6 separate regions of the Homo sapiens genome follow, and all the other regions are reported to be linked to region 1. The links are microRNA targets in miRTarBase. Many come from high-throughput screens and were not tested one by one. Region 1 holds a microRNA gene; each other region holds the end of a gene's coding sequence.

Region 1 (5,000 bases):
GCCTGCCCCTGCCCAGACTGAGGCTCTTTCCCAACTGTTCTGCTCAGTGAGGACACTGACTGCCAAGGAGGAGCTTCTGCAGACCCTGCGGTGAGGCCCCGAGAGCCCCCCTTCCCCGGGCCCTGACCCCCACTCATGCCCCTGAGAGCCCCCTTCCCCGGGCCCTGACCCCCACTCATGCCCCTGAGAGCCCCCCTTCCCCGGGCCCTGACCCCCACTCATGCCCCTGAGAGCCCCCCTTCCCCGGGCCCTGACCCCCACTCATGCCCGAGAGCCCCCTTCCCCGGGCCCTGACCCCCACTCATGCCCCTGAGAGCCCCCCTTCCCCGGGCCCTGACCCCCACTCATACCTGAGAGCCCCCCTTCCCCGGGCCCTGACCCCCACTCATACCCCTGAGAGCCCCCCTTCCCCGGGCCCTGACCCCCACTCATACCCGAGAGCCCCCCTTCCCCGGGTCCTGCACCCCCCAGGCCCCTGAGACGCTCTGTGCTTTAGGACCCACCTGATCCTCCACATGGCCCGAGCCCACGGCTACTCCAAGGTCATGACTGGGGACAGCTGCACACGCTTGGCTATCAAGCTCATGACCAACCTGGCGCTGGGTCGAGGGGCCTTCCTGGCCTGGGATACGGTAGGCAGGGGCCTGGGTGTTCAGGAGGCCCATCCTCACCTTCACCCCTTCGGCCACCTTTACTGGAGAGTAGCCTCTCGCGTATCAGTCCTGCGGCCTCGGATGGTGGTGGGGTCTGTGACCTCCCCTACCTGGCAGGGGAGGAGGGGCAAGCACATTCGGGCCTTGACCTGGACCACACAGCCCCTGCCTCCCGCAGGGCTTCTCGGATGAGCGGCACGGGGACGTGGTGGTGGTGCGGCCCATGCGGGACCACACCCTGAAGGAGGTCGCTTTCTACAACCGCCTGTTCTCCGTTCCTTCTGTCTTCACACCAGCCGTCGACACCAAGGTGGGCCTTGTGGGCTGGGCAACCTCTCTCACCATTGACACCGGGGTGGGCCATGTGGGCTGGGCAGCCTCTCACAGGCTCAGGTCACCAGCACACCTTCAGTGACTCCTGCTGTGGCCCCCAGCAGTGCTGCATCCTCTGAGCCCACCCTGTGCCGTGAGGGTGTGGGGGTGACAGGAGGACCCCACAGTGGGTGCACTGCTGAAGCGGGTTCTCTGGCTGCCTTGAGCAGTCGCAGCAAAGCCAGACCCATGTGGGCCAGCAGCGTGGAACCCACGGCACCTGTCCTGGGGACTCTGCCCCAGCCTGGGGCTGGCCTCTGGGCTTTCCCATAGCCTCCAATCTGATTGTCCCTAGGCCCCTGAAAAGGCCAGCATCCACCGGCTGATGGAGGCCTTCATCCTCAGGCTGCAGACCCAGTTCCCCTCCACTGTCAGCACTGTGTACAGGTGTGGGTGTGTGTGGGTGTGTGCGGGGGGTGCGCGGGTGTGTGCTGTGCGCGGGTGTGTGCGGGTGGTGAGCTCACCACTCGTGCTCAGGCCAGGGCTTAGGGTGGAGCCCCAGCCCGTGTGATTCACCTGCTCCTCCCACAATCCGGCCACAGGACAAGTGAGAAGCTGGTGAAGGGCCCCCGGGATGGCCCTGCTGCTGGCGACTCCGGCCCCCGCTGCCTCCTCTGCATGTGTGCCCTGGACGTCGACGCCGCTGGTCTGTGTTTCATGCTCTTGGGGTGATGCGGGGAGGGAGCCAGGGAGTGGGTGTGGGGGCTCAGCAGCCCCAGGCTCCGTCACCCCCTCTCTGCTTGCAGACAGTGCCACGGCTTTTGGGGCTCAGACCTCCTCGCGTCTCTCCCAGATGCAGTCACCCATCCCCCTGACTGAGACCCGGACACCCCCGGGGCCCTGCTGTTCTCCAGGGGTGGGCTGGGCCCAGCGCTGTGGCCAGGGGGCCTGCAGGAGGTGAGTCCCTGTCCCTGCCACCCATGGCCAGCTGCATGGGGCGGGAGGGGGACCTGTCCTTACCCCACACTGCACGGCATTGAGGTGCCAAGGTGGGCACACAGCCAGCTCTGCTCCCGCAGGGAGGACCCCCAAGCCTGCATTGAGGAGCAGCTGTGCTACAGCTGCCGCGTGAACATGAAGGACTTGGTGAGTACGTGCCCACCTGTCCTGGGCCGGGCTTGGGGACGCGGGAAGGCCGTCACCTCGTGGGTGGCTTGAGGGGGTGCTGGCAGGTTTCTTGGCCCCTCGACACCGGCCTCTGTTGCAGCCCTCACTGGACCCCCTGCCGCCGTACATCCTGGCTGAGGCCCAGCTCCGCACACAGAGGTACTGGGGCCCACACTGCCGTGGCGCGTGGGTAAGGGGCCTCGGGGCTGGTGCCCACTGCAGCTTTCTCTCTAGGGCCTGGGGCTTGCAGGAGATCCGGGACTGTCTGATTGAGGACAGTGACGACGAGGCGGGCCAGAGCTGAGCGTGAGGACGTGCTTGCCGGGACAGCAGGCAGTGGCCACCTGGTACACCACACTGGAGCCGGAAGGCAAGGACGGGGGACTGGCCTCTGATTGTCCATTTGTATAAATAAAACATTTTTTAATTAAAAAAAAAACTCTACAGTACACGTGGGGGACGGCAGCGCCACGCAGGCCGTGGGGACGCAGTGTCCTTCTCTGACAGCAGCATCAGGGCTCAGGCAGGCCGGGAGGATGCATCACAGCTGGCGGCCTTGGACGGGGCAGTGGCTCCCCCGGCCTGAGGAGTGCCGCCCCTTGTGGCCACGCTGCCCAGCAGGCCGGCTCCTTCCCTCTCGGGCGCCAGCAGCAGCTCCTACTCCTTCTCACGAGTCCACTTGATCATGGTCTCCGGTGAGCGGTAGAGGAAGATGAGCTTGGCGTACAACTCCTCCTCCAGCTCCAGCTCCCGAGTCTCCCGCACCAGGAAGATGTCCTGGCAGAGCTTGAGGATGCGGTCCACGCACGGCAGCTCCTCGAACATAATGGAGTGCGAGATCTCGCTGAAGAATCCGCGCACGAACTTGCCGATGACCAGCACGATGGACACGTACAGCCCCATGATGCTGCGGGGGAAGCTGGTGAGTCCTGGGGCCGCCCGGAGCCCCCCGAGCTGCGGGGTGCCCCCCCAGCCACTCACTCACCCGTAGCCAGCCAGGAAGCCGAGGCTCGGTGGGCTGACCTTGTCACTGAAAATGACCATGGGCAGCAGGTTGCAGTCGGTCCGGCACTCCTGCAGCTCGATGACCCACCATTCGAGGAAGCCGGTGGCCCCCGCACCCTGCTCCCTCCGCAGCTGGATACGCACGCCGAGGTAGTCGGCCTCCTCATCTGGGATGGAGGGAGAAGATCGTTGAGGCCGCAGGTCACCCCTCTCTAGCCTCCCCCAACCCCCACGCCCATACTCACTGGGCTGCAGCTGCTTCACAGGGTTGGCTTCGGGCCCGTTGGGGGCACGGATGTACTTGGGGAAGAGATTAGGGATGACCCTGCAGGGAGGTGCTGGCAGGTCAGGCCTGGCCCAGCCAACCTGGCACAGCCCTCCTGCCCACCACCCGGGCCCTTCACTCACACAGACTGGTCCGAGGTGCCCTCGAGCAGGCTGGCCAGCTGCCGCCGTGCAGTGCTGTTGGGGGCCAGGGCCAGCATGTGCTTCTCGTTGGCATACTCCACAGTGCCTCCCTTCGCCAGGTCCCTGGGGGTGGGAACACAGCGTGACCCACTGTAGTGGGTCCACCCACCCAGGCACTGCCCCAAGTCCAGGACGAACCTCTGGAAGTTCCAGGTGAAGCGCAGGGTGATGTCGGCCGTGCCGTTGTAGAGCTCCCGCTTCATCTGGGCACGGCTGGGGGGACTGATGCGCCACAGCGCCCCGGAGCTGCCCTCAATCTGCGCCGTGACGATGTCCTCAGGGCTGTACTGGCTGATGAACTGCATGGCCAGCTGGGTACAAGTGACACCCTCAGTGACTGCAGCCGCCTCCCCACACCAGCTTTCACAGGGCAGAGGCCACTTACCGGCTGGGGGTCAAACTGCCGGGACAGCTCCTCATAGGCCTGGGCCGTGAAGGGGATGATGGACGGCTGCTGGGCGCTCATGGTGAACAGCGGCTGGGGCAGGCACGGGGACACGGGGCCACGAAGATGAGCGTGGAGGAGCGGCTGGGGGTGGTGCACCACCTTGGCCAGAACCCCCAGGGGATGGGAATGGACAGGCGGACCCACACATGCTCACCTCATAGCCGCCCAGCTTCAGGGTGACGGTGACATCGATGGGCTGGTTGACAACCCCAACCACGGAGCGCACCAGCGACATGAAGAGCAGTGGGAACCAGATGATGGCGATGAGGAAGAGGATGATGAGGCCACCCATGCCGTACTTGACGATCTTCTTCTTCTTCTGCCCTTTGGGCTGCGGGTATTTCTGGAGGGGAACGACACAGGTCATACGCTCAGCTCTGCCCTTCCTGCGGGTCACACAACCGCATTCTCCAGCTCACCCAGCAGCCCAGAAAAGCCCCAGCCTGACCTCAGTATGGCACAGCGGTAGTAATGGTGGGCAGACACAGGCCAGTGGAGTAGAACTAAGAGTCCAGTTGGAACCCTCATGTTCAGGGGTCGTTGATCTTAGACAAGGGAGCTGTGACCGTTCAGTGGGAACGGACAACCTTTTTCAACACGGTGCAGGCACCGCCCCAGGCAGGAGAATGAAACGCAACTCCTGCCTCATACCATGTGCCAAAATTTACCTCAAAGTGGATCAAAGAGCGAAACTTCAGAGCTAAAACTATAGAACTTTTAGAAGAAAACGGGCAAATCTTCATGAACCTGGATTTGGCGAAGGAAACAAAGTAAACCAGATATTACCAAAATAAATACTTTGTGCTTCCAAAGACACCAAGAAAATTTAAGAGACAGTCCATAGAATTGGAGAAATTTTCTGCAAATTTTAATTGATAAGGTTCTAGCAACCAGAGAATACAGAGAATTCTTCCAATTCAGTCATTTCTAGCCAATGTATCTGCAGA
Region 2 (5,101 bases), not on the chromosome of region 1:
AACCCTGTCTCTACTAAAAATACAAAATTAGGCTGGGCGCGGTGGCTTATGCCTATAATCCCAGCATTTTGGGAGGCTGAGGTGGGCGGATCATGAGGTCGGGAGATCAAGACCATCCTAGCTAACACGGTGAAACCCCGTCTCTACTAAAAATACAAAAGATTAGCTGGGCGTGGTGGCACACACCTGTAGTCCCAGCTACTCGGGAGGCTGAGGCAGGAGAACTGTTTAAACCCAGGAGGCGGAGGTTGCAGTGAGCCAAGATCACGCTACTGTACTCCAGCCTGGGTGACAGAGGGAGACTCCGTCTCAAAAAAAAAGAAAAAAAATTGCTTCTCATCATCTTCGTTGTCCTTTTTTTTTTTTTTTTTTTGAGATAGGGTCTCCCTATCGTCACCCAGGCTGGAGTGCAGTGGTGCCATCTCGGCTCACCCCAAACCTCTGCCTCCCAGGTTCAAGTGATTCTCCTGCTTAAGCCTCCCAAGTATCTAGGATTATAGGCGTGTGCCACCATGCCGGATTATTTTTGTAATTTTAGTAGAGACTGGGTTTTGCCTGGTTGGCCAGGCTGGTCTGAAACTCCTGACCTCAGGTGATCCGCCCGCCTCGGCCTCCCAAAGTGCTGGGATTACAGGCGTGAGCCACCTTGCCTGGCCACTCATCTTCATTTTCTTAGGCAAAACAATAATAACACGTAGTCCCCAGATTTTAAAGGTTAGCTTAAAGAGCCTGTCTCTCATTTTAGGAATGTGTGGGTTGTTCAGATTCTGGTGGGTGACCTGTATGTGTGTGGTCTTTATTTTGTTTTTTTTCAGCTGCCCGTGGAGCCCCACCTCTGCCACCCATTCTCAGGTGAAGCCTGGCTTGGTCCCGTTCCTCAGGAAAAGGATGGACCTTCTCTTCTTCTCAGATGGTCCCTTCCATTCCCCTGAAACCTGCATGAGAGCTCCTAACATGTTTCTCCAATGCAATCAAGCCCTAGACTCCAAATGTCCTCCCAGCTCACCTCCATCTATGCATCTCATCTCTGGATTTGGTGATCAGACTCTATATTGACAGTAGGATCTCAAACCCTGCATCCATCCTTCCTCCAGCAAGCCCTGCTAGCCACATGAGGAACAAGTTTCCGTGTCTTCTGCCTTCCTCTTGGGGAAAGGTGCCTTGTTGTGATGAATTAACTCACTGTTAGGGCAGGGTGGAGAATGGTACTCCTTCCTTCTCCTGTCCACTGTGGGGGAAGCTTGGCAGGTATATTATATTTCATCATTTAGGAGGCTGGCATGACCAGGACTTATGGGTGGGAGGGGAGCATTTTTAGTGAAGCAAGAAAGGAGTTTGCCAAGAAGTGATCTGTTTTAAAGGTCATATTTGGAGAAAGGGCAAGGAATTGGGTCTGCTTTATTTTTGGGGGTATTTTGTTTTTGTTCTCACCTGCTGCCCCCCCACCCCACCACCCCAGGGATAAATTGGATATAAACACTAAATACTAATCAGTTGAACTTAACATTTAATAAAAAGAAAGGGTGAAATAAACTGAAGACCATTTTAGAACTAGTCAGTTCTCTGCAGCAAAGGGAACAGGAGCCATTTGAACCCTCTGGGACCCCTCACCCCACTGCTTCAGGGTGCTAGGCTGAGGGATGTTTTTCCTCCCCCTTACCGCCCATGCCCTTGAAAGAAAAGTCACTTTTTGTGGAGGGCATCATTCATTCCTGATTCACAAACCCCAAAAACCTCTGGTGGGAGATAGGAAGATAGGGCGTGGGCCTGGGCCTTAACCTCAATCTTGTGTCTGCCTCAGTCTTTTCTGACTGGCCCTGAAGTTGTCAGTGGCTCTTTCTGTCCTTCAGCCCCTGGAAGGTGCTCCAGGATAACAAAGAAGGGCAGGTTGAAGCCCCTCATGGAAGGAGCTGGCTTTGTGGGGCTGCAAAGGACTTTTAAGTCCTGCCTGTACTGAAGTTCACAGCCCACCTGACTGAGCAGACTCTTCCTGTTCCTTTCTCTACCACCCTTGCCTTCCCAGGACTGCACGGTTTAACACAGCAGAGTACAGAAGGGTGAAGAAGTGAGCAGAGGCTTATGAAGATATTCAGATACTCTTCTATGCCAGGAAGCACAAAGACTTTGTTGAGATTTGCCTCAGTTCAGTAGATCTTCCTTGGCAGCCAGCCATAGGTTGTTTCTTTGTCTTCCGGGTCCTAAAGAGCACAGAGAAAATGGAGGTCCCCAGTCTAGGTAGGAAGCTGATTGGATGAGGACTTCTTTTTTTCCGACAGCAGGATGGGGCTCTTGGGCTCCACACACCAGATGCTTTGGTTTTCTACAACTGTTGCTATGTGTAGAGGGTGCTCAGAGCGTGGCATGAGAGCAAGGAGACCATGGCTACTCTTTGAAATGGATGGGGAAAATTAGCTTAAAAATTTAATCACGAGATTGCGCCACTGCACTCCAGCCTGGGCGACAGAGCCAGACTCCGTCTCAAAAAAAAAAAAAAAAAAAAAATTTAATCACACACATCACAGGCTTAAACTGTCTTAGAGACCTTTCCAGTTGATTGGATCACAGGCTAGGGATCTGTGCATGGTGCCAGGTGAAACCCAAGTCTCCCCAGTGCTAGGTGAGGGAGGGCTCAACGGGGGTAATGTGTATGGGGTCTGCTGTCCTTTGCCATCCCCTGGACCATATTAACTCTGGGACAGACCATGATTAGGTCTGTCACCAAACTTTTCCTAATCATTTTTTATGTATCATTCTTCTTTCTAATCTGTTAGCAGTTATCTCCCAGAAGTATCCCTAGCATCCTGAAGCAAACAGAACTGCCGGGCGCTGTGGCTTATGCCTGTAATCTCAGCAATTTGGGAGGCCGAGGCGGGCGGATCACCTGAGGTCAGAAGTTCGAGACCAGCCTGTCCAACATGGTGAAACCCCGTCTCCACTAAAAACACAAAAATTATCTGGGCGTGGTGGCATGTGCCTGTAGTCCCAGCTACTGGGGAGGCTGAGGCAGGAGAATCGCTTGAATCCAGGAGGTGGAGGTTGCAGTGAGTGGAGATGGCGCCACTGCGCTCCAGCCCGGGTGACAGAGTGAAACTCCATCTCAGAAAACAAACAAACCAAACAACTGAGAGAGGGCATGCTAGTGGAGGGAAAAGGAGAGAGTACAAGAGTTGATACTGCATCAGAGTTCCAGGGCAGATACTGACAAGTGACTGAACTTTGACTGTGAAGTCTTCCCATTTATTTTTGAAATGGGAGTCGATGCCTTTTGTACGTTATCAAAGTGTTTTTTTTTTTTTCCTCCTTTACTCAGACATAGAGCATCAAAATATCACGAGTAAAGCCAAACCCCAGCTTTTCACTGGGGCTGATATCTTCCTCCCCATGGCCCACTGCCCCCTCATATTCCCCAGCACTTGGACTGTGTCACATGGGTATTGATTGTATACTTGTTGTCTTGGCCTCATGCAAAAAGGCCTGGGTCTAGATCTAGTCAGATGAGTTTTTTTTAGAGCATGTTGATGATACAACACCTGTTTAAATGTCTGCCTTATATGTTATTTGGTCCCACTGTTAATAATAGATTTATTACTATGTATATTTACTATTGAAGATGGGAATGTGATCTGCATAGTTATCAGTCTATTTTGTATGTTGTAAAAAGCTTCTAATTTAGGTTTAAGGTGGGCTGGCTACAAGAGCACTAAAACTCCTCACCTTTTAAACTGCTCTTTTTATCTGCTTGTGGGAATGTCGTCTCTTTCGTGGAAGATTGGGTGGTCTCATGTTGAGGCTGTTGCCCAGTCCCATTAACTCCCTTGTCCCCCCACAGAAGGAAGAGACATTGCCCAGCTAAGCATCAGGAAGCTGTGTTAAAAGCCCTTCTATGGGTTTGGTTTTGTGATGTTTTTCCCTAATGGGAAAAACGTTATAGTTGTTTCTTACTGCCCTGTCTGGGAAGCAGGGCAAACCTCCAGGTTTTTAAATGAGCTAGATGCCCCTCTTCCTCTTCTCTGGTCACTGAACCTGGACCAAAGCACTTTGATATTCCAGGTGTGATTTTCTCTGTCATGGGGATTTGCTCCACTGCAGAGCCCCATCATTTTCACAGCGTAGGCCAACAGAGTGAGAACCTAGGGCTACCCTAGCTGATGGATGTGAGGCTGCTGTCTACAGGAGCTCATCCCAGCCCTGTTAACTGGCAGTGGCAAGGATACTCGTCATCGGCCATTGCACTGGGGAACTCCCTCACCCCATGGCTTCCCAACTTGAAACCCAGATTTACCTCCAGGGAGAGGTGAGAAAAAAATTGTAAATAGACTTGCTAAAGAGCAACTCAGGGTTGGGGTGTGTTTTAATTCTCCTGATCACTTGAAATAATCTGTAGGCTGAGTGCTTATGGGGGTGGGGGAGAAGGGTGACTCCAGGGTCCTTCCATTTTGTGAAGCTCTGGGGGTGGAGTGTGGGCATCTGAGGCCCTATGATGGCACTACATTGAGCTGTCTGCCCTTCCGGAAACCCAACCTGCAATCAACTGCAAATCAAATTCTTCACATTCCAGCTACAGTCTTTCTTTCCCCATTGAATCTCAGTCCCTGGCCATGTGGTCAAGGTGGCTTTCTGTTAAGCTACCCTAATTTCGGGAATGGGAGGGGAGAGAGGAGGGCCATTACAACTCTGCCTTCAAGACTCATCTCTTAAAAACAAAACGAAACAAAACTACAACCACCATCAAAACCACACGCAAAAAAAAAAAAAAAAAAAAAAAGGATAACTTTAACCGAAGGAAGGGTTTGGTTCCATTCAACTCCACATTCATTGTGCCTTTACTTGCATTAGATTTCTGTGCTTTCTTCCTTTCCCTCTTTGAAGCAATTAAAATCTTCCTTGATAACTGCTGTTTCTTTCTACTCTTGTTTCTGGCAATTTAGTGGGTTCCTTCTCTAGTGGTCTTAAATCTCATTCCACTGGTGGCAAGATGGGGCCTAGCCTTCTTTTCACATGTCTAATCTTTTCCTTTCTCATGGTGCCCTCCATGGAAGTCACAGTCAACACTGAATAAATGACTAGAATGACACGTGTGCGTGCGCACGCGTGTGCGTGT
Region 3 (5,101 bases), not on the chromosome of region 1:
CCTGAGGAAAAAAATCTTACAAGATAGAATTTTTTTTCCTTTTCCTTTCTTTTTTTTCTTTTTTTTTTTTTTTTAAATATATTCTCAAGCTGCAACAGAATGAAAGAATTTTAATAGTACCTAAACATTTGTGCATACTAGTCTGAAGCAGGTTAAGCTGTGCCTCGGTGATAGAACCTGAAAGCCAGTGTTTTGTGGGGTTTTTGGGTTTTTGTGCTTTTCTTTTGTTTTTTCAAGAAATACTTTATTTTACTAATTATGAAAAGGAAGCCAAAAGTGCCACATGTCACGGGACAGTCCCAGTGAACGCTTGTCCTAGTTGGAGCACTTTTTATTAACATTAGCAGTGTGTACTTCCAAAGTTAAGTCAGTATATTCAAACCTTCCCTCAATATACCCTGGTGGCTGGGAGCAGGCAGATACACTTCCCATGGCCTGGGACATGGCCCAGTGTGGCCCGGGTCTCCCTGAAGGTGCTCCTTGCTCATCTCTTGGCTTCCTGTCGTCTGTCACACAGCCCTGGGGGCATGGATCTGGCTGATGCTGAGGCCCATGGCCATGAGCCAGGAAGGGGGAGGCAGGGTCAGGAAAGGGTAGAGGCACACCTCTCAGTACGCTGAATACCACTGCCAGTCTCCCTGGCACCCACCAGAACTGGTCCATTGTCATCAGAGAGTAAAGTTTGTACTGGGAGTTACTGACAAACAGTTGCTAATACAAAAAGTCCCATGTGAAATTTTCTTTGTTTCAGGCCGAGGGGGCCCAGGACCTGCTCAGAGAGTGCCCAAATCTGGGCGTTCCAGCTCCTTAGACGGAGAGCACCACGATGGATACCACAGAGATGAACCTTTTGGGGGCCCTCCAGGCAGTGGCACCCCTTCTCGAGGGGGCCGGAGTGGCAGTAACTGGGGTAGAGGGAGTAACATGAACTCTGGCCCGCCGAGGCGAGGAGCTTCACGGGGTGGTGGAAGGGGTCGGTAGAAGCTGGAACTGAGTACCCTGAGGCCTCTCTGGACAGTATGTAAGAACTTCTTGTGGACTCACCAAGAGAAACAAAAGGAAGCCTGCACCATTGTAGCCCTGAACTCTTTTCTGGGCACCTGAATCCCAGGAACCCTCAATGAGGTCTTCAAGATGAAGAGACTGCTGCCAGCTACCAGCCTGGCTGGCCCTGTCCTGTCCACCCTCATTGCCCCAACTCCCATGTTGTTTTGTGAAGATAAAAGCTGGGATCTTTTTCTTTTTTTTAAGTCTCACAAGACATGGGGCATCTCCACAAATTTAAGTTCCTGTCCATTTGGAAATTTGTTTCTATGTGTACAGTTTGTCAGAGAAAAACAAAGTTTTTGTATGAATACAGAATGTGATTTACGCAAGAATTGACAGAAAACTAGTTGTGAAGTGCTTGCCTTAAGGAAACCTTTGGTTTCCATCGCATCCCATCTGCCAAGGAATGCACGGTTGTTGCTGATGTTCATGAGCATATTAACCACTAGGTTATCTAAATTAATCTCAGCTGTGAACTTTGTGTTTTTCAACACATTCTGTCACACCATTTTTGTGACAGAAAAATACTTGAAAATTATTCTAATGTAGTTTGTAGTAGGTTCAAATTTTTATTCAGACATGCTCTGACAGATGGAAAATTGTACTCTGAAGAGAAAATGCAATCTTCTGGATGTCCAACGAGGGAGCTTCCCCTTGGAAGCATCTCCTAAGAATCACAGTTTAGGTTTGAATCGCCTTGTTATGATGAGGAGAGGAACTTGATGTTAGTCAGAAATAAAGTCACATGCCCTTTAGATAACTTGAAATCACACATGGAGTTGATAAGGAATGGACCAAAATAGGTCCTCAAACAATTTTGCAACACTTAATTAAGTTTTCCTCTCTTCCTCTTCCATACTATGTGGAAATACCAGTGTTACGGCAGGGCGTACTTCTAACTCACAGTAAGCCAGATAGATCTTGTCCATGGCAAATTCCTTGTTTAAAATAAACATACCATTTAGCCCAGTTTGGATTGGAAGCCAAAAATTCAGTTTGTTATATACCCCATGATACTTTCTATACTGACCTTTATTTTGGTTTTACATGGAAGCTTTTATTAAAAGGACTGTCCTATGGCCACCTTAACATTTCATTACATTGGCAGCTTCAGTTTTGGCATCAGTCAAATTTATTTGGCAAATTTAGTGGTGCTGGAAGTTTCTTTTTTTCTTTTCCTTTTTTGACAGAGTCTTGCTCTGTCACCCAGCCAGGAGTGCAGTGGTGCAATCACGGCTCACTTCAGCTTTGACCCTGCCTCAGCCTCCCTAGTAGCTAGGACTACAGGCATATGCCACCATGCCCAGCTAATTTTTTGTGTGTGTGTTTTTTGTAGAGATGGAGTTTCACCACTTTGTCTATGCTGGTTTCAAACTCCTGGGCTCAAGCGGTCCACCTGCTGTGGCCTCCCAAAGTGCTGGGATTGCAGATCTGAGCCACAGTACCTGGCCGCTGGTGCTGGAAGTTTCAATGGTTGCTTAGAAAAGGCATACTGATATAGTTTAACAGGATATGAAAATTTAACTGGTTCTCTATGAATGTAAAAAACAGCAAAAGCTAATTGATTTCTGTGGAGTGAGAAAATGTCAGCCATATACACTGCTTTTCAGTGTTAGAATCTAGAGACTATTTTTTTTTTAACTTTGAAATTACAGCTTATTTAATCAGCGCTCCACCATAAACATGCTATTAGGAGGCTCAAGATTGCTTTAGGTTATGGGTATTTCTTCACTCACCCCCAACTGGTATAGCTTAAAGAGAGAGAAACTGTAATCAAATTTCATGAAGCTAAAACCGGATCCAGAGACCAAACCCATATCAAGATTAGACTTTTTTTCCCTGAGATTCTAGTGGAAAAATTTTCATTATTTTGGGCTTTAACTTTAGAAACATAGTATCTCAGTAAGCAGATAACCAGATCACATTTAAAAATTTTCATTTTACCTTGAAGCTCTACTGGACTTGACAGATCACATTTTGAGAGTGAATTCATTTAAACAATAAACCTCTACATTATACTTATTAAATATATATGGCATTTAAAAACATCACTGTCAGCATACATACTAGATGTTGTGATTTGAAGCTTATAAAAAGTAGATTTTCAATGATGTTTGATTTGAGAAAAAATTTTTGAGACAAGGTCTCGCTGTTGCCTAGGCTGTGGTGCAGTGGTGTGATCACAGTTCACTGCAGCCTCAACCTCCTGGGCTCAAGTGATCTTCCCACCTCAGCCCCACCCCAAGTAGCTGGGATCACAGTTGTGTGCCACCATATCTGGCAAATTTTTTGAAGATTTTCTGTGGCGATGGGGTTTAACTGTGTTGCCCAGGCTGGTCTTGAACTCCTGGCCTCAAGTGATCCTCCCGCCTTGGCCTCCCAAAATGCTGGGATTACAGGTGTGAGCCACCAGCTGAGAAATGTTGAATTTTTAAGTTTTTATTTAAGAAATAAACATTGTAAAACATCATTATAAAACCCCCAACTATTGCAAGTTCTAGAGAAATTTAAAACTAGAACAGAAATTTAGGGGACTAGAAAGAGCAGCCAATGGCACAAGTCTTTACAATTAATTAAAAAAATAAATCATTCTGAAGATACTGCATTTGCTCTCTCACAAGCAGCCTCCTGAGGTAGGTAACCTTGTTTACTGATGGGGAACAAGGCAGTGTTCTTTACCAAATCTCAGGGCGGGTAGCCTGCAAGCCTACAGTGTGGATGTTGGCCACTTGTGTCACTTCTTGGGACGGGGCTTAGGGACCTGACTTACTTAGGAACATAAATTTTGGGGTTGGAGGAAGCAGCAGTGCTCTACTGCGGCACGACAGACACCCTGTTAAGGCAACACTGGGATCCAGCTCAGGAAAAGCATTACTTTCAAATTGTGCAAGCCAATGCACAGAAAAGTGGTCCTCAAACTTGGGGAACGTAGAATCACTTGGGGAGCTTTAAAAAGGTCCTGATGTCTGGGACCTACTTCCCAGGTTCTGACTGCATTGATCTGAGGTGTGGCTCTTCAAGTAACTGATGTGCAGTCAAGCGCGAGGACCACTGGCACACAATGTTTAAATTCTAAATATATTTTACTTCCTAGTGTATTGCTACTGACAAAACGTAGTTTTCTGGACTCATCAGAATGTTAGGCTCATACCTTCTGGCAATAAATTAAGGTAGTTAAAAGTAACTGCTGAACCTAAAATGAAGGCAGCAGCAATTAGATATAAAAAAATCTTAAGATCAGCCTGCAAATTGTAAACTAGTTTACAAAGCAGGCTATACAATGAGGAATAATTCGAGCTTGTAGAAATCCATGGTTTCCACCAGATACAGGTATTCCGGATCTAGAATTATCTTTCTATTTGCAGGATTTCCGAAGAGACCGTTAAGCATCTACGCGCCCCTTCCTGGATCCCATGCTTCTTGGGGCAGGAAATTTCTTTTGGTCCGTCGCTTTCGTCGTGAAATACACAACTAATTTTCCTTTCATGTTATAAGGCACCATATTTATGATTTTGTTAACTGAAGAAAAAACCCGAGATAAACCATCTTAAGTACTTTTAAAAGTCCAGTGGCTGAATTCGGTGTTTAATCTGATACCCTTCTGGATTCGCTGACACTGGAGAGAATAATTTCCAAGTCTTAGTATAGCCAAAACAAAAAACTACCGTCGCTAAGCTACATCTACCACTGGATTTTAAAATGACAAAACAGCCTGAGAAAAATCACAAGAGCAGCTAACTCGAAGAAAAATCCTTTTTCTTTACTCAGCCGAACCTAAGACCACAGTTACTTCGAAAGCAACTTCTAATAACCGTCTCACATCCTGTCACCAGTTCAATGACAAAATCTCAGTTTTCAGAGCGTGTGCCAAGTCCAGCACAAAAAGCTGACATCGAGGAGCTCCCAACGCTGCTGTCGCCTCCGCTGGCAGCAGCCGCTCCCGGATTAGACTCGCAGGCTGTTAGGGCAGGGCCTTCGCCACGGGCTTCCGCACAGCGGCGTGCAGTCCTCAGCTCGGCCGGCGCGGTCTCCGACGGCGCTGGCTCCGCGTACT
Region 4 (5,101 bases), not on the chromosome of region 1:
ACAAAAACCAGAAGAAGCTTCACTTGATTATAATTAATTTGCAGTGGTTGGTAAAGGCAGGCACCAAGCCAGATTCACCACTTTATAAATAATAAATCTGTGGGGGTGATGTTGTGAAAGATGCATGGTAAGGTTGCATCAGCAAGGTGAATCACTGAGTGGGTGGGACCGTCTAGAAAAGCATCTGTGTTTGGAAAGGGATCATTCTACAGCTTAGTCCAGAACACCTTGAACACACAGCATAGCAGAATCTTGACTGTAATACTTGGAGCAAATGTCACTGGCAAAAATGGCATATATGCTGGGATGTTCATAACAAATAGTTAAATATTGTTGGTCCTTTCGCATATAGAATCTCGGTATTAGAGGAAAATAGTAAACTGAAACTCTATTTCTGTTCTGCAAGAGCCAATTTCACCTATTGTATTACTTCGTTACCAATTGCAGCTGTGTAGTCAGTCATCCATAGGATTCTTTTTGTTAGACACAAAGTAGAAACCAGCTGTTGGCCGTTGAGACAAGTAGGAATCTTAGGAAATGTTAGCCTGCCAGTTCCTACTTTTCCTAACTACCTGCCTCACCACCCCCATCAAATGGTGGTCATGTTTTTTGTCACCCACCATTCAGGGGAGATGCTATCAACGAACCACGCTGGCTACACACAAATACCTTTTCCTCAGATGATATTAATCATCTTTGCCTTAAAAACTGAAGCTCTACCAAGTTTTCACTATGAGAGAAAAAAAATTACAACACCTAGCCTTGTAGTTAACACCACAACTGACTAATGGAAGTTGACAAGATCTAAATGCTTATACAAACTATCCCAAGGTCACAGGAAATTAATGGCAATATTATACAAGGTTAGGGTAGTTCACTTTCTATAGGAATTTGGATTTTACTTCTTAAACTACAATGGAAATGTCTCAGGCAGTCTGCTTTGGGAATGTATTCTTGAATAATACTGATTTCTCATTGAAGGAAAAAACACTATATCCAACAACTCAGATATGGCAGAAGTGAAGTCAATGTTCCGGGAAGTTCTTCCAAAGCAAGGTATGTACATCACAAATATTGAGGTCATTGATTATTACAGGACTAAAGAAGTCATAGGCAGTGTCACATAGCAGGCTTAATAGCTAAACATCTGCAGCTATTGTGTTCCGTATTATCTCATTTACTGTCTTTTACTATATGCTTTTTCATGACATCCAGTAAAAGGATAACAAATGAAACATTGTTTCTTATACCTAAAATTGCCTATTAATTAGCTAATTCCTAAAATTCCTAATTACAATATGAATTTTTTTTAAGAGACAGGTTGTCACTCTGCCACCCAGGCTTGGGTACAGCTGGCACAACCGTAGCTCACCGCAGCCTTGAACTACTGGGCTCCTGCCCTAGCCTACTGATTTGCTAGTACTACAGGCATGTGCTACCATGCCTGGCTAATTTGTTCTTATTTTTGTAGAGAAGGGATCTCAATGTGTTGCCTAGGCTGGTCTCAAACCCCTGGGCTCAAACAAACAATCCAACCCCTTTGGCATCCCAAAGTGCTGGGATAACAGGTAAGAGCTACCATGCCCTACTCAATATGAAACTTCAGTGAAAGAAATAATGGAATTTACTATGTTAAATAAGGTCTGAAAGTGGAGAAAGAGAAACCTGAAGCAACAGTAAGAAAAGCCGAAGGTTTAAACCTTCAGTCATTTGAATATTTACGTTAAATATCATATTTTGCTATATTTTTTTGCACTATGTATATATATATTCTGCCAAATCTTATTTTAAGATTAAACTTCTGACACAAAAAGTTGTGTCTTATGGTAGCATAGATTCTTGGGTAGAACGCTCAAAACTTGTCTTCCTCAGAAGCACCCTACTAGTAAGAAATGCGCTTATAGAATGACAATGATCTTTCTGGTTCCAGAGCAAAACTCAATTTAGGTACAAGAGTTTTTCAGTGACAAGAGATTAATTTTTTAGACCTTCATTCTAGCTGCAAATCCAACTACAAACAACTGGGTTATCTTTCTTGAATTAATTCTTATTTCTTGTTAAACTTAGGGCCACTGTTTGTGGAAGATATAATGACAATGGTGCTGTGTAAACCCAAACTTTTACCCTTAAAATCTCTGACTCTGGAAAAACTAGAGAAAATGCATCAAGCAGCACAGAATACAATTCGCCAACAAGAAATGGCAGAAAAGGATCAACGGCAAATAACCCACTGAATGATAACTGAGCACTTTAGGGAACAACCTGCCTTATCTACTATTTAACAATAACTAGAAAATATGCTTCTGTGTGCTGAAAGTAGTATGTGTTATCAATAAAATTGATAGTATTCATAGAAATACAAAAATATCCAAGATTGATGAAATTTGTATTGTGAATGTAAACACTCTGGTTTGTATTGAACATAAACAGTTAAACTATGAACCAAGTTTTATGGGGTTTAAGTCATGTTTTTAGAATTGCAAATTAAATTATTTGTTCACCATTCCTATTGCTATCTTTTATAGATAACATTCTTGGGATCTTTTATAGCATTCTTGGGCACAAGGGATTAAATACAACTTTTATATACAGAGGATCTTTACATGTTTATTAAATCTGAATTTGAAGATACATTCCAATCTTGCATAAAGTGTTTGTTGGGCTTTTACATTACGTAATTAAAAAACAAAATTTTTTAACCAATTTTATGTGCCATGTCACGTTTAATGCTATCTTGTGTGACCAGATCCCACCAGTAATGACAAAACTGTCTTAAACCTCATTTTTTTTTTTTTTTGAGACAAGAGTTTCACTCTTGTTGCCCAAACGAGAGCAATGGCACCATCTCGACTCACTGCAACCTCTGCCTCCCAGGTTCAAGCAATTCTCCTGCCTCAGCCTCCCAAGTAGCTGGGATTACACGCATGCGCCACCATGCCTGGCTACTTTTGTATTTTTAATAGAGACAGGGTTTCTTCATGTTGGTCAAGCTGGTCATGAACTCCCAACCTCAAGTGATCCGCCCACCTCGGCCTCCCAAAGTGCTGGGATTACAGGCATGAGCCACCGTGCCCAGCCCTTAAATCTCATTTTTAAGAAACCCTCACCTATTCTGTAGTCAGCTAAGCTTTTAATTACATTAATTTTAAGCACTTGAGAATAAAATGACTGCATTTATCATCCAAGTGTCAAACAATTAAAAACCTAAAAATGGTAACTATATATAAGCTGAGGTAATATGGGCTTGATAAAGCCCATGAGGTAAATATGAACACTAAACTTGGTTTTAATTCTAACAGACTATATCTAAACCTGTAAGCAGTATACTCCTAACAGTACCCTCATAAATTCTGAATATAATTCTTGTTTGCTGCAGTCAATATTTGGCAGTTTAAATTAGCACAGACGTTGAGGCCTTGCTGAGTTATTAGGCTATGTAAAAGAGGTTAAAAATATGATCATTCTTTATTGTTAATTGGTAATATTTTCTCATACATTAGGTAAATGTCAAGCTTTGGGTCTCTGGAGTATAACTTTTTGTAACATTAGCCATTATTTGGTAACAGAATTTAAGGATGATGGAATGATGGAAGGTATTACATATTTCTAAAACTTAATTAAGCTCTAGGTCAGATAACAATGGAGTAAAGTGATACCTGCATTTTTTTCCCCAGTGTAATCTTAATTTACTATTGTATTTTTCACTTAAAATTTTGTAGGGAAAAAAAGTTTTCAAGGGAACACTAAGATTAAATTGACTAGGTTCAAATATGCTTCCTTATGAGATTCAAAATTTACTGTGTGAAATTAAAGTTTAAGAGACCTAAAAAAATGTACTCCCAATAAAGAATCAATACTGCTTCACATGTTTTATTTTGGTGTACATTCTTCTAGAACCAGGTTCATTTTTCCAGTTTTGTAGAAAAATAGATGTTCCAGCCACCTTTTACTTAACTGTCTAGTCTTTTAAGACCAATCAGTATGTTCCCTGGAAAGATGAATAAGTCTCATGACTAATTTTTTAAAAATTCTTTAAGACAAAGAAATAACTTTCTTTTTTTACTCCCAAAGCACAGTATCTCAACAGCAGCAGCCAACATGGGGTTTTAGCAGCTTAACTTTACCCCCTAAATAAAGCTTTGTATAAACCAGTGATTTTACTACAAAAAACACTGTCCTTGAAAGAAAGGAGTGGCAGTCAGACATCAATGCAAAACTTGGAATGATTAGATAATAAACATGGCACTTACAAAAGGTAGCTTATTAGAATATTCCACTTAAGAAGAGGTTACTTTTCTGTCCCTCCTTGCCCCCTCGAAAAACAAAAAAAAAAGAAAAAACATTTCCTTTAAAAATTCCCCTTAAATGTAGGTTTATAAAATGTCAGAAATGCCTTGTACCCAAAACAAGTGCTTAAAAAAAAAAAAAAAAAAAACTTGTGCTAACAACTCTTACAATTCAGATATATATTTTTATAACATCTAAGACTGCAAGAGTTCTTATATTCAGTAGCTCTCTGGTTTAAGACGACCTCCATCTCCTTCGCTTACAAAACGCTTTCTGCCCCTGTAATGAAGAAAAAAAAAGACATGAAAACAGATACAAATTCTGACTATAGTCAATATATAAAAAAATTAAAAACTTGGTATTTTTTCGTTACGTGTTAGCTTTTAAAGGGTTTTCCATTAAAAAAAAAAAGCATGCCTCTAATTCCTTTGGAAAAGACTCCCTACTATATATCTTAGCATAAAACATCAATATCAAATCTGAGTTTTTGTTTTAATAAGTTCACTATCCAAACAGAGTCACATTAAAAAAAGTTGACTCAAACTAAAACATTTTATTTAGAAATTTAAAATTATTTCTAATTAATTTCTAATTATTATTTGTAAGCTTAACAGTAAGCCAAATAGGAAACACTAACATAATTCAGAATTATGCAAACTGGAGCTGTGCAACCTATCAAAATATCCATGTTTGGCAATTTAAAAAAAAATGTTTTATCAACTGTAGAAAAGCCATAACTTGAATGTGGAAAAAAATCAGAATTACAGCCTATGCCCCATTTTGGGATTCGTGCTTTGTCAAACTCAAGAAGCCC
Region 5 (5,040 bases), not on the chromosome of region 1:
ACTTGAGCATTTTGCCTGAAATGTTTCCTAATGTCATGTTTATCTTTATAATCCATGATGAAAGAACAAAACTGATAGAAGTAGTGTTGCAGTATGAGTAAGTGCCTCAAAAAAAAAAATCTTTTTTTCCTTATGAACAACAGCAGGCAAACCTAGGAATACTGAAGATGGAAGGAAATCCAAAAGCAAGCCTTAGGCATTAAGAGAATGCTATCACCCTCTAAAAATGATTTGCTTCTTATCCTTCTCACTGACAAGACAACAGTGATCCATCCCAGAAAACCTAAAGTAAAAGAGATGAAGTGATTTTGTCTTCATCACACTAGAGTCTTAGCTTAATACCTTGTTTATTGAAATGCCTAAACTTGTCTTTTTTACTCTTACCAGTTATGGAAGATGCATCAATTTTGTGAAGATTTTTGTTTTATACTTCACCAAAGATCTACCATTTATGTTTTTAAAAAATTTTATTTTCCAGGAGAAAGATCACCAACATTCCTTGAACGCCACACATCATGCTGATAAAATTCCTTTCCTTCAGTCACTCGGTATGCCAAGGTAAAGGAGAGCCCAGTATTTTATGTTTTTCTGTGGGATAATTGCCCCACAGAAATGTAGTTAATGGTGGGTTATTGACAGAACTTCTTGTTCTCCTTCGTCTCTATTATTTATCTTAAATAAATTACCCAGTGACCAAAACTTGTTCCAGCTTTTACTAGTAGAAAGCATTCTAAGAGACCTAGTTACTATTACAAATAATGGAATCTTTCAGTATCATTAAGTTACAACCCAGGATCAACATTAGCTCTTTTAATTTCAGTATCGTCCCTGATTTAAAGAGGTAACTGGCACTTTCTGACAGTTCTTCTCCAGTGGTTTCTTTCCCTCTTAATGAAGTTCTAGGGATTTCAGATTCTACTTGATTTTCTGAAATCTCTGAATGTTTTTATTATGTCAGTCTTTTTGTCCTTTAATTTCTGACAGCATTACCCACCTGGTAGTACCTCTTTTCCTTTTGTGTTTGTTGTTTTTATTAATTTAATCTAGGTATGAGATCTTATGAATTTTTTTACTTGAATTTCTTGACTCTGCTGGTAACCTTCATCCCATTTAAAATGTTTGTTTTTAATACACAAAGAGAATATAAATATTAAAAGAGAACAAAGAAGGACACATTTGACTTCTATACAATGCATAAACATTTGACAGATGATGAAGGAAATCTGATTTACTTACTACTTTTTTTTTTCCTTTTTCTCTAGTCCTCCTAGAACTCCAGTAAAAGTTGTGCCTCAAATTAGAATAGAACTTGAACCTGAAGACAATGATTATTTCTGGAGGAGCAAGGGAACAGAAACTACATTGTAACCTGTTTGTCTTTCTTAAAACTGACATTTGTTGTTAATGTCATTTGTTTTTGTTTGGCTGTTTGTTTATTTTTTAACTTTTATTTCGTCTCAGTTTTTGGTCACAGGCCAAATAATACAGCGCTCTCTCTGCTTCTCTCTTGCATAGACACAATCAAGACAATAGTGCACCGTTCCTTAAAAACAGCATCTGAGGAATCCCCCTTTTGTTCTTAAACTTTCAGATGTGTCCTTTGATAACCAAATTCTGTCACTCAAGACACAGACACGCACAGACCCTGTCCTTTGCCTCTATTAAGCAGAGGATGGAAGTATTAAGGATTTTGTAACACCTTTTATGAAAATGTTGAAGGAACTTAAAACTTTAGCTTTGGAGCTGTGCTTACTGGCTTGTCTTTGTCTGGTAGAACAAACCTTGACCTCCAGACAGAGTCCCTTCTCACTTATAGAGCTCTCCAGGACTGGAAAAAGTGCTGCTATTTTAACTTGCTCTTGCTTGTAAATCCTAATCTTAGAGTTATCAAAAGAAGAAAAAACTGAAGGTACTTTACTCCCTATAGAGAAACCATTGCCATCATTGTAGCAAGTGCTGGAATGTCCCTTTTTTCCTATGCAACTTTTTTTAACCCTTTAATGAACTTATCTGTTGAGTACATTGAAGAATATTTTTCTTCCTAGATTTTGTTGTTTAAATTATGGGGCCTAACCTGCCACTTATTTTTTGTCAATTTTTAAAACTTTTTTTTAATTACTGTAAAGAAAATGAATTTTTTCCTGCAGCAGGAAACATAGTTTTGAGTAGTTCTACCTCTTATTTGTAGCTGCCAGGCTTTCTGTAAAAATTGTATTGTATATAATGTGATTTTTACACATACATACACACACAAATACACAATCTCTAGGGTAAGCCAGAAGGCAAGATCAGATTAAAAACACCATGTTTCTAAGCATCCATTTTTCCCTTTCTTTAAAAGAAACTTAACTGTTCTATGAAGGAGATTGAGGGAGAAGAGACAAACTCCTATGTCATGAGAATAACCGATGTTCTGATAATAGTAGCATCTAGGTACAGATGCTGGTTGTATTACCACGTCAATGTCCTATGCAGTATTGTTAGACATTTTCTCATTTTGAAATATTTGTGTGTTTGTGTATGTGCTCTGTGCCATGGCTGGTGTATATATGTGCAATGTTAGAAGGCAAAAGAGTGATGGTAGGCAGAGGGCAAAGTCATTGAATCTCTTATGCCAGTTTTCATAAAACCCAAACCACATATGAAAAAATCCATTAAGGGTCCAAGAAGTCTGTCCATATGAAAATGAGGGTAAATATAGTTTATTTCCCAGGTATCAGTCATTATAATTGATATAATAGCTCTAACATGCAATATAAAATTCATAGGAGTATTAATAGCCCATTTACACATCTATAAAATGTAATGGGATTGCAGAGCTGCAGAGTACAGTGTAACAGTACTCTCATGCAATTTTTTTCAGGATGCAAAGGCAATTATTCTTTGTAAGCGGGACATTTAGAATATATTTGTGTACATATTATATGTATGTATATTTCAAAGTACCACACTGAAAATTAGACATTTATTAACCAAATTTAACGTGGTATTTAAAGGTAATATTTTTAATATGATACATTACATATTGTGAATGTATACTAAAAAAACATTTTAAATGTTAAAATTATAATTTCAGATTCATATAACCACAACTGTGATATATCCTAACTATAACCAGTTGTTGAGGGGTATACTAGAAGCAGAATGAAACCACATTTTTTGGTTTGATAATATGCACTTATTGACTCCCACTCATTGTTATGTTAATTAAGTTATTATTCTGTCTCCTTGTAATTTTGATTACAAAAATTTTATTATCCTGAGTTAGCTGTTACTTTTACAGTACCTGATACTCCTAAAACTTTTAACTTATACAAATTAGTCAATAATGACCCCAATTTTTTCATTAAAATAATAGTGGTGAATTATATGTTATTGTGTTAAAACCTCACTTGCCAAATTCTGGCTTCACATTTGTATTTAGGGCTATCCTTAAAATGATGAGTCTATATTATCTAGCTTTCTATTACCCTAATATAAACTGGTATAAGAAGACTTTCCTTTTTTCTTTATGCATGGAAGCATCAATAAATTGTTTAAAAACCATGTATAGTAAATTCAGCTTAACCCGTGATCTTCTTAAGTTAAAGGTACTTTTGTTTTATAAAAGCTCTAGATAAAACTTTCTTTTCTGATCATGAATCAAGTATCTGTGGTTTCATGCCCCTCTCTATACCTTTCAAAGAACTCCTGAAGCAACTTAACTCATCATTTCAGCCTCTGAGTAGAGGTAAAACCTATGTGTACTTCTGTTTATGATCCATATTGATATTTATGACATGAACACAGAATAGTACCTTACATTTGCTAAACAGACAGTTAATATCAAATCCTTTCAATATTCTGGGAACCCAGGGAAGTTTTTAAAAATGTCATTACTTTCAAAGGAACAGAAGTAGTTAACCAAACTAACAAGCAAAACCTGAGGTTTACCTAGTGACACCAAATTATCGGTATTTTAACTGAATTTACCCATTGACTAAGAATGAACCAGATTTGGTGGTGGTTTTGTTTCTATGCAAACTGGACACAAATTACAACAGTAAATTTTTTTATAAGTGCTTCTCCCTTCTCCATGATGTGACTTCCGGAGATAAAGGATTCAAAAGATAAAGACAAAGTACGCTCAGAGTTGTTAACCAGAAAGTCCTGGCTGTGGTTGCAGAAACACTGTTGGAAGAAAAGAGATGACTAAGTCAAGTGTCTGCCTTATCAAAAGAGCAAAAATGCCTCTGGTTTTGTGTTTGGGAGAAAAGTATCTTGGACGCACTGTTTTCCTTGATAAAAGTCATCTTCTCTACTGTGTGAAATGAATACTTGGAATTCTAATTGTTTTGTGTGCCAGGGGCAGTAATGTCCCTGCCTCTTCTCCCAATCAAGGTTGAGGAGTGGGGCTGGGGAGAGGACTTAACTGACTTAAGAAGTAGGAAAACAAAAACCTCTCTCCTCAGCCTTCCACCTCCAAGAGAGGAGGAAAAACAGTTGTCTGCTGTCTGTAATTCAGTTTGCGTGTATTTTATGCTCATGCACCAACCCATACAGAGTAAATCTTTTATCAACTGTATACTGGTGTTTAATAGAGAATGATTGTCTTCCGAGTTTTTTGGTTCCTTTTTTAACTGTGTTAAAGTACTTGAAATGTATTGACTGCTGACTATATTTTAAAAACAAAATGAAATAATTTGAGTTGTATTACAGAGGTTGACATTGTTCAGGGATGGGACAAAGCCTTCTTCAATCCTTTTCATACTACTTAATGATTTTGGTGCAGGAACCTGAGATTTTCTGATTTATATTTCATGATATTTCACATTTGCTCTTCACAGCATGAGCATGAAGCCCAGTGGCACCAAATGGCTGGGTACAATCAAGTGATATTTTGTAGCACCTCACTATCTGAAAGGCCATGAGTTTTCAGATGATTTCATTGAGCTTCATTGCAGCCTGAAATTTTAAAAAAGTTGTGTAATACGCCAACCAGTCAAGTTGTGTTTTGGCCAGAGATTTAGATATGTCCAATTTCCTGGCTCATTTCATTGT
Region 6 (5,101 bases), not on the chromosome of region 1:
GAAACAGCAGCATTCGGTATCCCTTTGAAAGCTGGCAGTACCTGTATGCATTTCAGCTCAATTCAGGAAGTTATTTGCCTTTAGTGGTGTTTCTTGTTTCCTCTGGGATGCTGATTGTCTCTTTGTATACACACCACAAGAAGATGAAGGTCCATTCAGCTGGTAGGAGGGATGTCCGGGCCAAGGCTCACATCACTGCGCTGAAGTCCTTGGGCTGCTTCCTCTTACTTCACCTGGTTTATATCATGGCCAGCCCCTTCTCCATCACCTCCAAGACTTATCCTCCTGATCTCACCAGTGTCTTCATCTGGGAGACACTCATGGCAGCCTATCCTTCTCTTCATTCTCTCATATTGATCATGGGGATTCCTAGGGTGAAGCAGACTTGTCAGAAGATCCTGTGGAAGACAGTGTGTGCTCGGAGATGCTGGGGCCCATGATCTGGGAAGAAAAGTGTGGTCAGGACACTCTTGGGACGCTCTTTTGATAGCTCTCTATAAGGGAGCTGCTTTCCATGTCTTTTAAGATTTTCCTTCTTTTACACCAATGTAATGAATGAGCAACAGAAAATACGGATCAAAACCCAATACTATGTCTCTTTTGGCAATGCAAAGTATATTTTTTTAATGTACCACAGAAATCAAGGCTAGGGCTTCATGTTTGGTAAAAGAGGTATTATATTCTCTCTACATATAGCAAATAATTCATATATAAATCGTGTTTTTCCTATTATAAAAAGCAGAGATTAGGAACAATTCTGTCTACATATAGCAAAAATTCATATATAAATTGTGTTTTTCCTAGTATAGAAAACAGAGATTAGGAACAATTATAGTGATCATTAATTTTTATGAAATTTTACCTATACATTAATGTTAGTCATTTTAGATATGCTTTTTAAAAAGTATCAAATAATTTCCCCATTTCTCTGCTGTAATGTATCTAATTATCTAACTGAAAAACAAAACAAAACATCTTTATATTTCTGGAAGTTTCTTTGAGCCCTAGCCTTGGCTTTCAGAATAAAAATCAGGCTCACGCCTGTAATCCCAGCGCTTTGGGAGGCTGAGGCGGGCGGATCACGAGGTCAAGAGATCAAGACCAAATTAGCCGGGCGCGGTGGCGGGCGCCTGTAGTCCCAGCTACTCGGGAGGCTGAGGCAGGAGAATGGCGTGAACCCGGGAAGCGGAGCTTGCAGTGAGCCGAGATTGCGCCACTGCAGTCCGCAGTCCGGCCTGGGCGACAGAGCGGGACTCCGTCTCAAAAAAAAAAAAAAAAAGAGATCAAGACCATCCTGGCTAACATGATTAAACCCCATCTCTACTAAAAATACAAAAAATTAGCCTGGTGTGTTGGCGGGCACCTGTAGTCCCAGCTACTCGGGAGGCTGAGGCGGGAGAATGGCATGAACCCAGGAGGTGGAGATGGCAGTGAGCCGAGACCATGCCACTGCACTCCAGCCTGGGCAACAGAGCGAGATGCCGTCTCAAAAAAAAAAAAAAAAGCAGAATAAAAGTCAGTTGGATGCCATGATCTGTATTAAGCTCCAAGGCCCAGGAACTGAAGTGGGGCAATATGAGAATGAGGGGCACTTGATTCTGCTTAAAAAAAATAGACTGCCTTTGAAGAGGTCACGCTGTCTGCTCTTCAGTCATTTAGCCATTTTGCCTGTCTACTGTGGCCTCACCACAGCCTACAGTCAGAGTTCTAGTGTGCCAGGTCTTTGAGTTGGAGGGAGATCATTTAGAATGCCAGATCCATGGCAGTAGGAACTGTGTCTGTTTTTATTTTCTCCCACGTCTCTGTGACTAGAACACTGCCTATTGCATAATAAACGCTTAATAAATATTTTGTAAATGACTGAATAGCTGTGCTAACTGGTTTTACAATGCCTCCTTTGTATTGTAGGTAGAGAAACTGATGCCCAGAGAGGGGCAGTGGCCTGCCCTGGGTTTCATAGAGAGCCTGTGGCAGTGCTGGGACTAGAGCTGTTTCTTGACTCCTGGTGCAGGGCTCTTTCCTTTACAACATGCTACTTTCCTAATGTCCTTCCCTCCTTGGAACCCCATGCCTCTTTCTACAGACCCTTCTACACAACTTATTCTCTTCCTTCTTTCTAGCCTTCTTTGTTTCAGTTCCAGGGGGATCTGAAATCCAAAGGACAACACTTGGCATTCTTAAATATTTTTTTTTCACTTCCTATGGATCACACTAATCTACTTTCATTAATCTATTCTCTCAAACATATCTTTTTCTTACCTGAATCTGAGAATTGAGGTACATGCTAGGCACATGTGGATATTAGTCATCACACAGGGGGAGATTGGTTCCACTGTCACTGTGAGTTGTGTGAGGTCAAGTACCATATTTTATGTCCTGGGAAGGATCATATTCATTCTTTTTAAATAGAAAGGTGCTTCTGCTTGGTTATATTTTTGTTAGTAGGATGAATTTTCATTATACCATTTCTATTTTTTTTACAGATGTCCTTTGTGACCAATTGTTGTAATAGTGACAATAGTATTTAACATTTGTATTGGGCTTTACATTTTACCAGACAATCTCATATATAGTCCATTATCTCATTTGATTTTAATAGCAACTCTATGCAGTAACCAATTTTATCCCCAATTCACAGGTGACAAAACTCAGGCTGGAGTGATGGTTTGCCCAGGATCATGAACTTGTAAATAATGCAGATGGAGCAGACCCAAATTTTTTGACTCCGAGTCTTGTGCTCTTTCCAGTAAATCCTAAGTATCTCATTGTTCATACTTGTAAGACTTCAAACTAGGATTAGCCTGTGGAACTTCCCTCAAGTTTATGAGTATTTTTACACACATGCAATAAGCAACTAATCTTTCAAATTTGGTATTGATGGGATGCCTGGGTGCTAAGATCCAAAATCACAACAGATCAAAGTTTATGATCTGCTTTTCTTAGTGACAAGGTATGGAATCAACCTAAGTGTCCATCAACACATGAACAGATAAGGAAAATGTAGTGTATGCATGTATGTGTATCTGTTTCATTTTCTACTTTTCTGTACTGTTCAAATTGTTTTTAGCCATGCTCAAATATCACATTTGAACATTTGAACAGATAAAAAAATGTAGTATACATATGTATGTGTATATATGTATACACACACACAATGGAATATTATTCAGCTTTAAAAAAGAAGGAAATCTTGTCATTTGAAAAAATGTGGATGAACCAGGAGGACCATTATGCTAACTGAAATAAGCCACATACAGAAAGACAAATACTGTAAGATCTCACAGATGTGTGGAATTTCAAAAAGCCAAACTCACAGAAGCAGAGTAGGATGGTGGTTGCCAGGGCCTGGGACGTGGGGGAAATAGGGAGATGTTTGGTGTCTGTTAGGAAGAATGAATAAGCTCTGGAGAGCTAATGTACAGCATAGTGACTATAGTTAATAGAACCGTATTATATACTTGAAATTTGTGAAGAGAGTAGATGTTAAATGTTTTCACTAACAACAACAACAAAGATAATTGTGAGGTGGTGGATATATTAACTTGATTGTGGTACTCATTTCACAGTGTATACATATGTCAAAACATCATGTTGCATACTGTAGATATATACCATTTTTGTCAATCATTCCTCAATAAAGCAGGAAAAATTATTGCATTTTCCACATCACCTTTTGGGATTTGATTTCCTTCTTTTTCTGTACACAATTTACCTTATGATGCGTATGAGACTGCTTTGTGTTTTAGCAAAGAAAACAAATGGGAAGGCAAATATATACTCTTGAATTGATTCCTATGTAATTGAATCTTTTATAATTTGCATTCTTAGAGTTGCAGCTGGATCCATGTGTGCGTGTGTGTGTGTGTGTGTGTGTGTGTGTAGATGTTAATGGCCTTACATTTAATTATGTGATATGCTCTGTGGTGGTGTAGCCGAGAGGAGACGTGAAATGTTAAAAATGTGATATGTGAGCATGGCTAAAAACGATTTGAACAGGACAGAAAGGTAGAAAATGAACAGCAACGTTTTTCCCTCCCACCTTCTATTATTAGTCCCACTGCCTGGATATAATGGTATCTTATCACTTGTGTTAGTTCTTTTAGTGGTTATTTTTTACGACTCTGAATGGTAAGATTTTGGCTCTCTTACTTGTTTTATCAGCTTTAAACTGTAGCCTTTGAGTTCCATTCATCAAGGTTTGGGGATTATCTCATTTTGCCCCTAATCCATTTTCCTCTCCTAAATTGATTAGTTTTATTTTGTTGTTCTAACAGTCATTACTTTTACAATTGTAAGTAATATATTTTCTACACTGCTTTTTTGAACCATGCCTTATGACAGTATCCACAGAGTCCCGATTATGTAGGAGGAAGAAATTAGTGCTTCACCAGTCCTGCACTTCTCCCATATCCCAACTCCTGTCACCTGTGGTATCAGTTATAAACAACTTCATATGACTTCAGGAGAAAGTACACTTATCAAAAGGAAATTGGCTAGATTATAGAACCAGGGAGAAGGCTGGAGAGTCAACCTCAGAATGGGAACCAAGAGGGGTTAAATAAACAAGAACACAATCAAGTCACACTACAGGGACTGATGCTGGCACCACCTCTCCTGTTCAGCTGTTAACATTGTGTTCTTGACACTGCCACTGCCTCTGAGACTGTGTCTCTTCGAGCCATCCTGGGTGGGATTTTTGGCTGGCTGATTCTAGATCACAGGCCTAACCTAGCTGACAGGCCCTGGGGTGAGGAAAAGCCTGGTTTCCCTTTGGCTTCTGAAATATGCACTTTTAAATTAGGTGAAATAAATTATTCCACCATTGAATTAAGCAGCAGAATGGGTACAGCTCCTGGTGTGGAATTGATGCACTGGAAGGCCAGCTCTAGAACTCTCGCAGGAGATATGGCAAAGTAATAAAGTGATGGGAAATTTAAAAGCAAAGCAATATGGCACACAGAAATAAAAGGACACTCATAGGTGTGATTGGAGCCCCAGAAGGAGATGGAAAAAATAAGCACAAGGAATGAAATATTTGAAGAATTAATGACCAAGAATTGCATTAACGATGAAAAAAGACTAAAAGGGCTCAAGGGGTGTC

What was found. Region 1 holds the annotated microRNA hsa-miR-4722-3p (ACCUGCCAGCACCUCCCUGCAG, at 3,463-3,484, opposite strand). A microRNA usually pairs through its seed, bases 2 to 8, with sites in the 3' UTR of a target mRNA and lowers its output. Matches are read on the target gene's strand: a 7mer-m8 pairs with bases 2 to 8, a 7mer-A1 pairs with bases 2 to 7 and ends in A, and an 8mer does both.
Region 2: the mRNA of WIPF2 is a reported target of hsa-miR-4722-3p. Seed matches in the 3' UTR shown: 7mer-m8 at 1,243-1,249 and 7mer-A1 at 3,003-3,009.
Region 3: miRTarBase lists WDR33 as a target of hsa-miR-4722-3p. Seed matches in the 3' UTR shown: 7mer-A1 at 4,472-4,478.
Region 4: miRTarBase lists PDCD4 as a target of hsa-miR-4722-3p. Seed matches in the 3' UTR shown: 7mer-A1 at 2,888-2,894.
Region 5: miRTarBase lists SLC4A4 as a target of hsa-miR-4722-3p. The part of its 3' UTR that is shown has no 7-base or 8-base seed match.
Region 6: the mRNA of TAS2R5 is a reported target of hsa-miR-4722-3p. The part of its 3' UTR that is shown has no 7-base or 8-base seed match.

Annotation. Positions count from the first base shown.
Region 1 is chr16:88,712,816-88,717,815 of GRCh38, forward strand. It overlaps MIR4722 (microRNA 4722), which reads right to left and starts at 3,522; the gene lies at 3,463-3,522. CTU2 (cytosolic thiouridylase subunit 2) reads left to right here. Exons shown (of 15, transcript NM_001012759.3): 7 at 1-90; 8 at 497-632; 9 at 832-963; 10 at 1,321-1,412; 11 at 1,568-1,671; 12 at 1,772-1,922; 13 at 2,045-2,111; 14 at 2,233-2,291; 15 at 2,367-2,581. The coding sequence ends at 2,436. It overlaps PIEZO1 (piezo type mechanosensitive ion channel component 1 (Er blood group)), which reads right to left. Exons shown (of 51, transcript NM_001142864.4): 45 at 4,208-4,396; 46 at 3,991-4,083; 47 at 3,744-3,916; 48 at 3,546-3,668; 49 at 3,383-3,462; 50 at 3,118-3,304; 51 at 2,523-3,039. The coding sequence ends at 2,790.
Region 2 is chr17:40,277,370-40,282,470 of GRCh38, forward strand. It overlaps WIPF2 (WAS/WASL interacting protein family member 2), which reads left to right. Exons shown (of 8, transcript NM_133264.5): 8 at 816-5,101. The coding sequence ends at 856. Among named protein-coding and RNA genes, the nearest start is that of CDC6, 8.0 kb to the right of the region's middle. RefSeq lists enhancers at 3,677-4,613, 4,614-5,101.
Region 3 is chr2:127,702,203-127,707,303 of GRCh38, reverse strand. WDR33 (WD repeat domain 33) reads left to right here. Exons shown (of 22, transcript NM_018383.5): 22 at 752-5,101. The coding sequence ends at 981. It overlaps SFT2D3 (SFT2 domain containing 3), which reads right to left. Exons shown (of 1, transcript NM_032740.4): 1 at 2,062-5,101. Among named protein-coding and RNA genes, the nearest start is that of SFT2D3, 3.3 kb to the right of the region's middle. RefSeq lists a silencer at 5,049-5,101.
Region 4 is chr10:110,897,493-110,902,593 of GRCh38, reverse strand. PDCD4 (programmed cell death 4) reads right to left here. Exons shown (of 12, transcript NM_014456.5): 12 at 2,588-4,566. The coding sequence ends at 4,506. BBIP1 (BBSome interacting protein 1) reads left to right here. Exons shown (of 4, transcript NM_001195305.3): 3 at 982-1,056; 4 at 2,068-3,864. The coding sequence ends at 2,234. MIR4680 (microRNA 4680) reads right to left here and starts at 4,504; the gene lies at 4,439-4,504.
Region 5 is chr4:71,566,526-71,571,565 of GRCh38, forward strand. It overlaps SLC4A4 (solute carrier family 4 member 4), which reads left to right. Exons shown (of 26, transcript NM_001098484.3): 25 at 479-558; 26 at 1,263-5,040. The coding sequence ends at 522. Among named protein-coding and RNA genes, the nearest start is that of GC, 220 kb to the right of the region's middle.
Region 6 is chr7:141,790,822-141,795,922 of GRCh38, forward strand. It overlaps TAS2R5 (taste 2 receptor member 5), which reads left to right. Exons shown (of 1, transcript NM_018980.3): 1 at 1-546. The coding sequence ends at 440. Among named protein-coding and RNA genes, the nearest start is that of TAS2R5, 3.2 kb to the left of the region's middle.